Linked DNA regions of Homo sapiens. The protein of the gene in region 1 binds, or shares a complex with, the protein of each later gene. Each region holds a gene or a part of one and is shown in the gene's direction. Other genes may lie near its edges.

The links. Proteins that work in one complex are often made in the same cells at the same time.
Region 2: POLR3B (region 1) and POLR3GL share a complex: the UniProt entries of both Homo sapiens proteins name them as parts of the RNA polymerase III (Pol III) complex.

The regions. Positions count from the first base shown.
Region 1 is NC_000012.12:106,360,735-106,367,765, forward strand, and holds part of POLR3B (DNA-directed RNA polymerase III subunit RPC2), read left to right. Parts: intron 1-3,135; coding exon 3,136-3,168; intron 3,169-5,781; coding exon 5,782-5,838; intron 5,839-5,923; coding exon 5,924-5,988; intron 5,989-7,031. UniProt on the Homo sapiens protein: Catalytic core component of RNA polymerase III (Pol III), a DNA-dependent RNA polymerase which synthesizes small non-coding RNAs using the four ribonucleoside triphosphates as substrates.
Region 2 is NC_000001.11:145,974,680-145,979,369, forward strand, and holds the end of POLR3GL (DNA-directed RNA polymerase III subunit RPC7-like), read left to right. Parts: intron 1-145; 5' UTR 146-186; coding exon 187-312; intron 313-627; coding exon 628-757; intron 758-2,404; coding exon 2,405-2,473; intron 2,474-2,803; coding exon 2,804-2,860; intron 2,861-3,098; coding exon 3,099-3,172; intron 3,173-3,303; coding exon 3,304-3,417; intron 3,418-3,681; coding exon 3,682-3,768; 3' UTR 3,769-4,169; downstream 4,170-4,690. UniProt on the Homo sapiens protein: DNA-dependent RNA polymerase catalyzes the transcription of DNA into RNA using the four ribonucleoside triphosphates as substrates. Specific peripheric component of RNA polymerase III which synthesizes small RNAs, such as 5S rRNA and tRNAs.

The DNA.
Region 1 (7,031 bases):
AAATATTTGTCAGTGTTACTGAGTACTTACCTGGTGGTGTATTATTCACAGGGTTTATACAAGTTCAAAAAATGTGTTTTCTGCCTCCCAGTGTGTTATAGGCTTATAGAGAGAGACGTGTAAGCAAGTGGAATAACATGCAATAGGTACTGTGATACAAGTAGGCGAGGGGTATTTTGGTATTACAAATGGTAGCTAGGATGTGATGCCTGAACTGAGTTTGCCAGATGTGGATGAAGTGTGGTGGTGCGGAAGCATTCCAGATAGAAGGAGGAGGCGTAGGCACAAGTACAGCTGCAAGCACAGCATATGATGTATGCCTCGCTGTGGAGTTAAGACATGGTGAAGAGGGTGGGGAGGCACTGAAGAGTTGTAGAGAATGAGGTGCTCAGCTGTGCACATGAGGACATGTACACTGGCTTTAGTGCTGAGCATTGAAAGGGACGAGCAGGAAGAGTAGTAAGGAAGTATTGCCGCAGACCAGCTGAAAGATTATGAGGGCCTCAACTGGCACAGGAGCAGAGGATAAATGCGAGGAAGGTTAAAAGGAGGTCGACTCAGTAGAATTTTTGTTTTCCTGTTGATTAAGAAGAGTCAGAAAGTTAGGACTCCCGGGTATCTAATTTGGGATTGACTGGGATAAATGGTGATATTCATTGAGATTGAGAATGGAGCTGGGGGAAGATTTAATTTTGGACATACTGATCTTAAGTAGCCTCTGAGGCTGTAAGGTATCACTGCCCAGTCAATAGTTGGAGGGGACAGGCCCATACCCAGTAGCTTACTGCAACAGTGATATTCACTCACTCATTTATTTATTCAGTATTTATTGGAGTCTTTTATGTGCCAGGCACTGTGGTAACAGGATAGACAGGGTCACTGCCCTTGAAAGAGCCCACATTTGGAACTGGGGGGCTGTGGGATGAGATGGGGGAAGCTAAACAACACTTTCAAACAGTGTTGTTTGAAATCCTCCATTCCCAGCCCTACTTGAGAAAAGACATCGCCAGGGATAGAACTTTGAAGAACACCAAAATTTGCAGGGTGGCAGAGAAAAAGAGGTGTGACAAGGCCCGGCCGGAGGAAGGAAAGACATAAGAGAATGATACCACAGAGTGTTATAAGACAGTGATCGGCATGGCCAAATACTGTGGAAAGGGAATGTGAGGGGGCATCAAGGGAGGTCTTTTGAAGTAGCAGCCTTGGTGACCTCTGTCGAGCTCTTTCACTGGCAGGTAGGTCAGAGTCCTGACTATAACGGAATGAAGGAGTGGGAAGTGAGGAACAGAGAAGCTAAATATGGAGTAATTTGGGAGAGATCGTAAGCTGAAGGGCAGGGAAGAAAGTAGTCAGAGGAGCTGCTGAGTCAAGAAAGTTTTAAATTTTTTTTTTAATGGGAGGATTTGAATACTCGTTTTAAATAGAACAGGTTGAATATCAAGGACTGAACTGGGGCAAGGTTTCCAGTCTTCAGGAGAAGGTTGGCAGGATTGTGTCTGTGGCGGAAGGGTTAGCCTTAGACCAAGGAATGGATGGTCCTTCCTTTGAAGTGGGAGGAAACGAGTATAAGAAGGGGTGTAGAGAGAGGAATTTGAAGATGTGGGAGTATTAGCTCATAGGGCTGCCGTAACAAAGTAACCACAAACTAGGTGGCTTAAACAACAGAAATTTGTTTTCTCATAGTTCTGGAAGTTAGAAGTCTGAGATCAGGGTGACAACAGAGCTGGCTCCTTCTGAGGGCTATGAGAGAGGATCTGCTCTGGGCCGTCCCCTACTACAGGTGTTTGCTGGCAATCTTTGGCATCCCTTGGCTTGCAGAAGCTTCACTGAGACCTCTACCTTCATCTTCACATGGCATTGTCCCTGTGTGCATCTCTATGTCCAATTTCTCCTTTTTTATAAGGACACCAGTTGTATTGGATTAGGGCTCACCTTAATGACTCATTTTACTTAATCACCTTTGTCAAGACCCCATCTTCAAAAACAGTCACATTCTGAGATACTGGGGATTAGGACTTTAGCATATGAATTTTGAGAGGGACACAATTCAACCTATATCATTGTCATTCTTCTATTTTTAAATTTAGGTGTAATTTATATAATAAAATGTATGGATACTAGATATTCAGTTACATTGGTTTTATAGTTATGTGCTCTATGTGGACATTGCATCACCCCAGAAAGTTCCCTTATGACCCTTTTCAGTCTATCCCCCCAAGCACCTTTTGATTTCCGTCATCATAGATTAGCTTTGCCTGCCTCTCTTGTTTTTGACTATACCCAGGGGTCTGCCACCTTCCCTGGCCACTCCTCGGTCTCCTTTGCTGGAGCTGCCTCCTGCTCCTCCTCTCTGATTGTTGGATTATTCTTGGTTGGTCTCACTTTGTGGAACTCTTCTCCATCTACATTCCATAGGTGATCTCATCCATCACGTGCCTTTAATTGCCATCCACTTGTTAATCTCTTCCTAGTTTATATCTCCAGGCCACTCCATTCCCGAATTCAAGACTCATTTGTTGCCTCCTTGACATTTCCACCTGAATGTCTAATGGAGATCTCAAGCTTAACACACCCAAACCAAATTTCTAGTAGCCCCTCCACACCTAAACCTGCTATTCCTACAATGTTCCTCGCCTCCATCAATTTTAACTCTATCCCTCTAGTTGCTCAGGCAATGTAGGAAGCAATCACCATATGTGTCATCCTTCTGTAGCCCTGAGATGAGCTCTGACCAGACAGTAGTTGAGAGAGAATGGGAGGGAGAAAGAACTCCCTTTGGGTCTTGAGACCCAGCTCTCCCACCAGACTCTCTGAGCCTTATTTTCCTTTTCTCAAACTGGCAAACTTCACTTAGGAAGTGTCATGAGAATAAAATAAAGGATTGAAAAGTGCTTAAAATCTTGAGTCATCAGGAAGAGATTAAGTTATATTCTGTTTAGGAAACCTGTAGTGTATGTATGTATGTGTATACATATTTATATGCATATGCACACATGTGATTTCCATAAAAATGTTTAAAAATTATTCTTTTTGTTTTGATTTACTTTCCTTTGCTTATTTTGGAACATTAAAATAACTTATGAAAGTACTGTTGCTGGTACAGAGTTCTGATATTCTTCTTGTTTTGGCTCACAGGAAAAATGGAGGCTGCTTCCAGCATTTTTAAAGGTAATTGTTTCACATTTAATAATAATTGGTTATTTTTCAGATGAAAAAGTCAAGAAATAAGCCATTTTTTAAAGATTAAATTTTTGTCATCAACATTTTTTGATTTTGTATAGCTGTGTTTGGAAATACAAGGAATTATAAGGTAAAATCCCTGCCTGAAAGGTGCTGGTTTGGAGAGTGGTAGTCTAATTTTAGAGAGAAGTAGTAGTACATGCACAGTAGCATGGCACATGATTAAAAACCAAAGTGCTATCAGCAAAAGAGCAATGGTCAGAGAGGGCCACCCAAATGAAGTGAGACATAAACCACATCTTAAGAGAAGAAGGTTTAAGCCTGAAAGCTGGGTGCAGAGAGCGTGGCTCAATCAAGGTGTTCAAGAGGAGCCTCCACAGAGTCTGCAGGAAATAGCGACCAGTCAAGAGGAGCTGCTGAATATGATATGATGTGGTGTCGGGCTTCAATTCAATTTCCAAGAGCTTATGCTAAGAAGTAATGAGTACCACAGTGAGAGACCACTTGGCACCCGCTAGGATAGCTATAATCAAAATCAAATGTTAATAAGGGTGTGGAGGAATGGGAACTATCATGCTCCACTGGTGGGAACGTAAAGTGTTATAGCCACTTTGGAAAACAGGCTGTCAGTTTCTCAAATGGTTAAACAAAAAGTTACCACATCCTCCAGCAATTCCACTCCTAGATATCTGTCCAAGAGACATGAAAACATGTGTCCATGCAGAAACCTGTACACAAATGCTCATAGCAGTATTATTCATAATAGCCAAGAGTGGAAACAACCCAAATGGCCATCAGCTGCTGGATGGATACACAAAATGGGATGTATCTGTGCAACAGAGTATTATTTGGCAATAAAAAGAAAGCAGGTACCCGCTGCAACATGGACGAATCTTGAAAGCATTGTGCTAAGTGAAAGAATGGAGACTTGAAAAATGAGGCCGGGCGCGGTGGCTCACGCCTGTAATCCCAGCACCTGGGGAGGCTGAGGTGGGCGGATCACGAGGTCAGGAGTTTGAGACCACCCTGGCCAACATAGTGAAACCTCGTCTCTACTAAAGATACAAAAAATTAGCTGGGTGTGGTGGCGGGCCCCTGTAATCCCAGCTACTTGGGAGGATAAGGCAGGAGAATAGCTTGAACCTGGGAGGCAGAGGTTGCAGTGAGCCGAGATCGCGCCACTGCACTGCAGCCTGGTCGACAGTGTGAGATTCCGTCTCAAAAAAAGAAAAATGAGTAGAGTTTTGTCTCTACTCATTTTGGACTCTACTCTAGAGTTCAGTTGCGTGTTATGGGCAGAGGGGAGAGTGCTGGGAAACGAGGCTGGGAGTTGTCAGGGCCAGTTTCCTGATCAGATTTGAAAGCCGTGTTAAGGATTTGGCTTTTCTTCTAAAAGCCGTAGGAAGCTATTGAGGAGTTTCTAAGTTGGGGAGTGACCAAGAATCAAATAAAATGGTCGTAAGGTCAAGAAGTTTCTTTTTCCCCCTAAGAGACCAGGTCTTGCTACATTGCCCAGGCTGGATTTGAACTCCTGAGTTTGAGTGATTCTCCTGCCTCTGCCTCCCGAGTAGCTGTGACTGTAGGAATGTGACACCTTGCCTGGCCTTTTTGTTATTTTTTAAAAGGAGCTGCACATAAATGGAGAAGAAGGTGCTGGGTGCTGGGCACAGTGGCTCACGCTTGTAATCCCAGCACTTTGGGAGGCCAAGACAGGCGGATCATTTGAGGTTGGGAGTTTGAGACCGACTAGCCTGGCCAACATGGTGTAACCCCGTTTCTACTAAAAATACAAAAATTAGCTGGGCATGGTGGCGGGCACCTGTAATCCCAGCTACTCAGAAGGCTGAGGCACCTGAACTGCTTGATGCAGGGAGGCGGACGTTGCAGTGAGCCGAGATCGCACCACTGTACTCCAGCCTGGGCAATAGAGCGAGACTCTGTCTCAAAAAAAAAAAAAAATTTTTTTTTTGTTAAAAACTAAGATACAAATACACACATTAGCCCGGGCCAGAATCATCAATATCACTGTCTTCCATCTCCATGCCTTGTCCCACTGGAGGGTCTTCATGGACAGTAACACACATGGAGCTGTCATCTTCTATGATAACAATACCTTCTTCTAGAATACTTGCTGAAGGACCTGCCGGAGGCTCTTCTTGAGGAGGGGTCATTCTTTTCAGAAATACACTCTATGAAATCAAATCAAGTTGTAAGTCATTAGGCGATAGGAATTTTTCAGCTCCATTATAATCTTATGGGACTGCTGTCAGATATGTGGTCTGTAGTTGAATGAAATGTTGTTATGTGGCACATGACCATATATTCATGTACTCATATTTTGATTTCCGAGAGTCAGATTGCTTCTCAAGGAGGAAAACTCTCGAGGATATGCTAGTAAGACGATGCAGAAATGGAATGAGAATGCATTAATGAAAAGATTTATTAAATAAAATTCATGGATTATTTTTCTCATTTTGATTTTGATAAAAATTTGATGTTCACCTATTATTAGATTCCATTATATGATCTATTATTTGAGCATATCATCAGTACTCTTTGCACTTTTGCTAACCTGTTTACTTTCTCTTTCTATCTGTTTAGGTGAAAGGCCTTGTGAAACAGCATATAGATTCATTTAACTATTTCATTAATGTAGAGGTAAGCATCAGATGTTAGAAATAGACATAAACTAAGGATTAATTGGAAGCCAGAGTCTTTGCTAATGTTGCATTTTCCACTGCAGATAAAGAAGATAATGAAAGCCAATGAAAAGGTTACAAGTGACGCTGACCCTATGTGGTACTTAAAGTAAGGAACCAACATTCTTAATTTGCTATGTGGGTTACATCTAACATTTTTTAAAGTGAGTGAAGTTGCTATCAAAACTCTTTTAAAATCATTGTCTTGGCCAGGCTCGGTGGCTTATGCCTGTAATACCAAGCACTTTGGGAGGCCGAGGTGGGCAAATCACCTGGGGTCAAGAGTTCGAGACCAGCCTGGCCAACATGGTGAAACCCTGTCTCTACTAAAAATACAAAATTAGCCAGGCGTGGTGGTGCACATCTGTAATTCCAGATACTCAGGAGGCTGAGGCAGGAGAATCGCTTGAATCTGGGACGGGGAGATTTCAGTGAGCTGAGATTGTGCCACTGCACTCTATCTTTTACAGCAGAGTGAGACTCTGACTCAAAAAAATAAAAAATGAAAAAATAAATCATTGTCTTTTATTAACTATAAAGTGCTCAAATTAAATTTTTAACTGGCAAATTATAATGAGCTATGGTTGGGAAAATTTTGAAACTATTAGGTTTTAAATATTTAAATTTTTATTTTGAAATAATGTTAAGCTTAAAAGAAAAATTGCAAAAGTAGTACAAAGAATTCTTCAATATTTTTCACCAAGCCTTCACTGATATTAACATCTTACATAACCATAGCACAATGATCAAAACCAGGAAGTTAGCACAGATACGATGTTGTCTACTAATCTGTAGACCTTATTTGATGTTTTCTCACAAATGTCCTTTTTCTGGTGTAGGAATCAATCCAGAGCTCCGTGTTATGTTTAGTTGTCTTGTATCCTTAGTCTCCTCAATCTTTCTTGGTCTTTCATGACATTGACACTTTTGAACAATCTAGTCAGTATTTGTAGAAGTTCCTTTAATTTGAGTTTGTATGACGTCTGATTGGGTTATACATTTTTGGCAAGAATACCACAGAAGCAATGTTTTATGCTGTTCTCACTGATTCGTATTGGGGTTACAGATGCCAATATATTTTATTACTAATGATTTTAACTTTGTTCACTTGATTAAGGTAGGATCTTCCAGATTTCTCCACTGAAAGGTTAC
Region 2 (4,690 bases), on another chromosome or scaffold:
CTGACACTGTGCCTTCTCAGTCAAAATTTGTTGAATGACATTAACTTTTCATGTCCCAGAGATAAAAGATTGAATGTCTTGTACCTCCTTGGCTTCCTGTCCATTCTACTACATTTCTTTTTCTCTTTGTTTTTGTCTTTATTAGGTTTATTCACTGGATCTCTGAATACCCAGGCCCCCTCCACCATGGCCAGCCGGGGTGGGGGCCGGGGTCGTGGCCGGGGCCAGTTGACCTTCAACGTGGAGGCCGTGGGCATTGGGAAAGGGGATGCTTTGCCCCCACCCACCCTGCAGCCTTCTCCACTCTTCCCTGTGAGTCTCTCCACTCCCTTCCCAGACTCTCATGTGCCCCTGGCTGACTGTACATGATTCTGAATTCCTCCTGGACCATCATAAAACCATCCTCGCTTTGGCCCTCTCTCTATACTCCCAATGCACAGGGATGTTTTGCAGGCAAAGAAGTGTCCACCTTTACTTCTCCCCAGCTTTCAAAATAATATGTTACTCCCTCGATTGTCATTTGGCCCTCTGCTCAGTGGGAGTGTTAGACTAAATTGGGAGGAGGGGTCTTCCTAAATTTGTACTAGCATTTTCTCCCTGAACTGACCACTGCCCCTGCCTCTTTAGCCCTTGGAGTTCCGCCCAGTACCTTTGCCCTCAGGCGAGGAAGGGGAATATGTCCTGGCACTGAAGCAAGAGCTACGAGGAGCCATGAGGCAGCTCCCCTACTTCATCCGGCCAGCTGTCCCCAAGAGAGGTCAGTTGGAATGCTAGCATCATATTCTGAGTGCCTTCCATGGGGAGTGCCCTGTGCTCAGCACCACTGGGGGCCAGAGGGGCACAGGAAGCATACTATCTAACTGGGGAGATCATAATAGTTACCCCTGTATCTGAAATGCATTATAGTATTCATGGTTTGTTTTGAGTCTCATGATAGTCTTGGGACAGCAGGAGGTTAAATATTAAAATCCCATTTCACGTGTATAAGTAGGGGGATGTATTTTCTAAAAAATTATATATTTTTTATTTTTTTGTAAAATAGAGATAGGGTGTCCTTATGTTGTCCAGGCTGGTCTTGAACTTCTGGGCTCAAGAGATTCTCCTGCCTTGGCCTCCCAAAGTGCTGGGATTACAGGCATGAGCCACTGCGCCCAGCAAAATTTTTAACAATCTGGATATTATAAGCACCAACCAACAAGAGAATACTGAAATCCTGGTTTCTTATTCCCTAGCATACTTTCCACTGCACCACGCTATTTCTTAATACAGCCATGCCTTTGAACTAAGGGACAGAAAAAAAAAAAATCATCATGGCCGGGTGCGGTGGCTTACGCCTGTAATGGCCAGCACTTTGGGAGGCTGACATGGGTGGATCACTTGAGGCCAGGAGTTTGAGGCCAGCCTAGCCAATACGGTGAAACCCTGTCTCTACTAAAAATATAAAAATTAGCCAGGCACAGTGGTGTGTGCCTGTGGTCTCAGCTACTCGGGAGGCTGAGGCTGAGGCTGAGGCATGAGAATCGCTTGAACCTGGGAGGTGGAGGTTGCAGTGAGCTGAGATCTTGCCACTGCACTCTAGCCTGGGTGACACAGCAAACCTCTGTCTCAAAAAAAAAAGGCCAGGTGTGGTGGCTCACACCTAGAATCCCAGCACTTTGGGAGGCTGAGGTGGGCAGATCACGAGGTCAGGAGTTCAAGACCAGCTTGGCCAACATAGTGAAACCCCGTCTCTACAAAAAATACAAAAAAATTAGCCAGGCCTGGTGGCAGATGCCTCTAATCCCAGCTGCTTGGGAGGCTGAGGCAAGAATTGCTTGAACTTGGGAGGCGGAGGTTGCAGTGGGCTGAGATCACGCCACTGCACTCCAGCCCAGGCGACAGTGCGAGATTCTGTCTGAAAAAAAAAAATCGTAATTTTGGGTGGAAAAGGAACAGGTTAGAAGAGTGATAAGGGGCCGGGCGCAGTAATTCACGCCTGTAATCCCAGCACTTTGGGAGGCCGAGGTAGGTGGATCACGAGGTCAGGAGATTGAGACCATCCTGGCCAACATGGTGAAACCCCGTCTCTACTAAAAATACAAAAATTAGCTAGGCGTGGTGGTGTGTGCCTGTAGTCCCAGCTACTCAGGAGACTGAGGCAGGAGAATCGCTTGAACCTGGGAGGTGGAGGTTGCAGTAAGCTGAGATTGTACCACTGCACTCCAGCCTGAGGGACAGAGCGAGACTCTGTCTCAAAAAAAAAAAAAAAAAAAGTAGATAAGGTCCTCACTGAAGCTGACCCCCTGGGCTCTGGGTTTGGGGTAAGGAAACAGATAATTCCTCAGTATTGAGAGGGCTGGACTCTCAGGAACAGTCCTGTTCTGGGTCTCTGAAGGGATAAAACTTTGACCCTTCCACCCCTCAGATGTGGAGCGTTATTCAGACAAATATCAGATGTCAGGTCCGATTGACAATGCCATCGATTGGAACCCTGGTAGGTGATGGGCCCTTTCATTGACTGCCCTTCTTTCAAATGCATGGGATGCTTCAAGCTATTCCCACCACGCCCATGACCCCACCCCATTCCCCGATCCAGCATCTGCAAGCTAGAGCCTTAGTTATGGTCCAACACATTCTCAGATTCTACCTGAAAAAGCTATTAAATAGTTCCCACTACTCAGGAGATATCCAAGCCACTGAACAACTTTGGCCCAGCCCCTTCCTTCCTCTCCTTTAAAACCCTCACCCCCCTTTAAAACCAGTCAGTATTCACTGGAGACCCCAGGCAGGGTCCTATTGACATTTACGTTCCCACTATTCCCAGATTGGCGGCGTCTACCCCGGGAGCTAAAGATCCGAGTGCGGAAGCTACAGAAGGAACGTGAGTGTATCTGGAAAAAAGGAGGGAGAAGAGAGGTTTCCTTCATCAGCCTGAGGGCCGAGGCTGCTGCTGGTCTCACCTTCCATCCCAGTTCCTATACCCAATCTACCAAGTGTTGTTGCTAGATGTCATAGTGGCCACATGAGGGCAGCAGAGTGACATGTTCTTTGCATGAGGATGGGCTATAAAGCTGGCAAAATTTGCTCTCTGAAGGTTTACCTTTTGATCCCTCCACCAGGGATTACAATTCTGCTCCCCAAGAGGCCCCCTAAGACCACAGAAGATAAGGAGGAAACAATACAGAAACTAGAGGTGAGGAGGAAGTGTGCATAGAGACCTCCTGAGCCCTGGATCCATTCCCTCTCTCTTGGCCCATGTGTGCCTCAATTTTTCCCTTCTGTGAACTGAACCTGAGTTTCTATTCCTATTCATCCCCACATGAGACCCTGGAGAAGAAGGAAGAAGAAGTAACTTCAGAGGAGGATGAGGAGAAAGAAGAAGAAGAAGAGAAGGAAGAGGAGGAAGAAGAAGAGTATGATGAAGAAGAACATGAAGAGGTGAAGGGGACTCCTTCCACCTTAGTCCCCCTCCCTTTACCCTCTTTATACTAGGGTTGCTCTCCTCAGAGGGTTGGCATGCCAACAGAGATAGTGCCCCCCAGGGTAGGGGCTTCTCTCTACTTCATCTGCCCCCCTTCTACAAACTACAGCTGGAAGAGATGTCTCAGGCCTGGAATGGTGTGACTGAGAGGAAAGGGGTCTGGTACACAGGAAGGAAGGTGAATGCCAAATTGACTTTTACTTTTTTTTTTTCCATTTCAGGAAACTGATTACATCATGTCATATTTTGACAATGGAGAGGACTTTGGTGGTGACAGTGATGACAATATGGACGAGGCTATATACTGAAGAAGGACTCTGGACCCTCGTGTCTTTCTTTAGGATACAGAGAGTAACTGTACCTATTATTTGTTTCTTCAGACAAGCAAATCATTTGGTCAGAGTTCATATAATCTGTCTGTTCCCTGGAGATGGGAATAGAGGATGATGACAGTTTATTTTCTACACTTCCCCTCCTTCCACATTTGTATCACCTTTGCTATCTTGGGGAAAGTGCAAAGGACAAACATCTCAATTGTATGAAGGGAGAAAGGAGAATTGAAAGAAGAACTGGGGTTGTTAGAGCTGAGATGACTGTACACATACCCCTGCCCAATTTATATAGCTCTTTGTGGAGATAATTAGGGGTGGGAGCAGTTTGAAGGAGTAAGCCTGGTTTTATACTTTTAAATAAAGTGTTTTTATCTGTCTCTCTGTTGTGGGTGAGGCCTGGTGACAGAGGGCTGGAGGAATGAAGGAAATGCTTAACTAAGCCGGGTCTGGTGTGACACACTGGAGGGTTACAGCCCTACAGCCCGCTTGTCCTTTGTCCCTTCCCTTCTACCCCCATGGTGGGACACATATTCACAATCGAGCCCAGCCAAGGAATATTCAAGGCCTCATCTGTAGGGCAATGCAAAGTAAATTGTAGAGAACAGCCTACGCCCCCTGCAGTACAGCTGACTTCTGAGCCTCTGGTCCTCAGGCCACAAGGACATGATTGTGTCTGTTCACACATGTTCACAAGGACATAGGTCCTGTCTTTCCCACACTTGACCTTGATCTTGTCCTTATTTACAAAAAATGATTACAGCTATTTTTGTGGGGAAAGGCAAGAAAACCAGGTATGAGGAGGGAGGAGGAGCTGACTTATTCACCATACTCCCTCCTCTTCCAGACTCTGGAGATGCCACTTTGAAAGGTATGTCTGTGCAGAGCAAGTCCCCCTAAA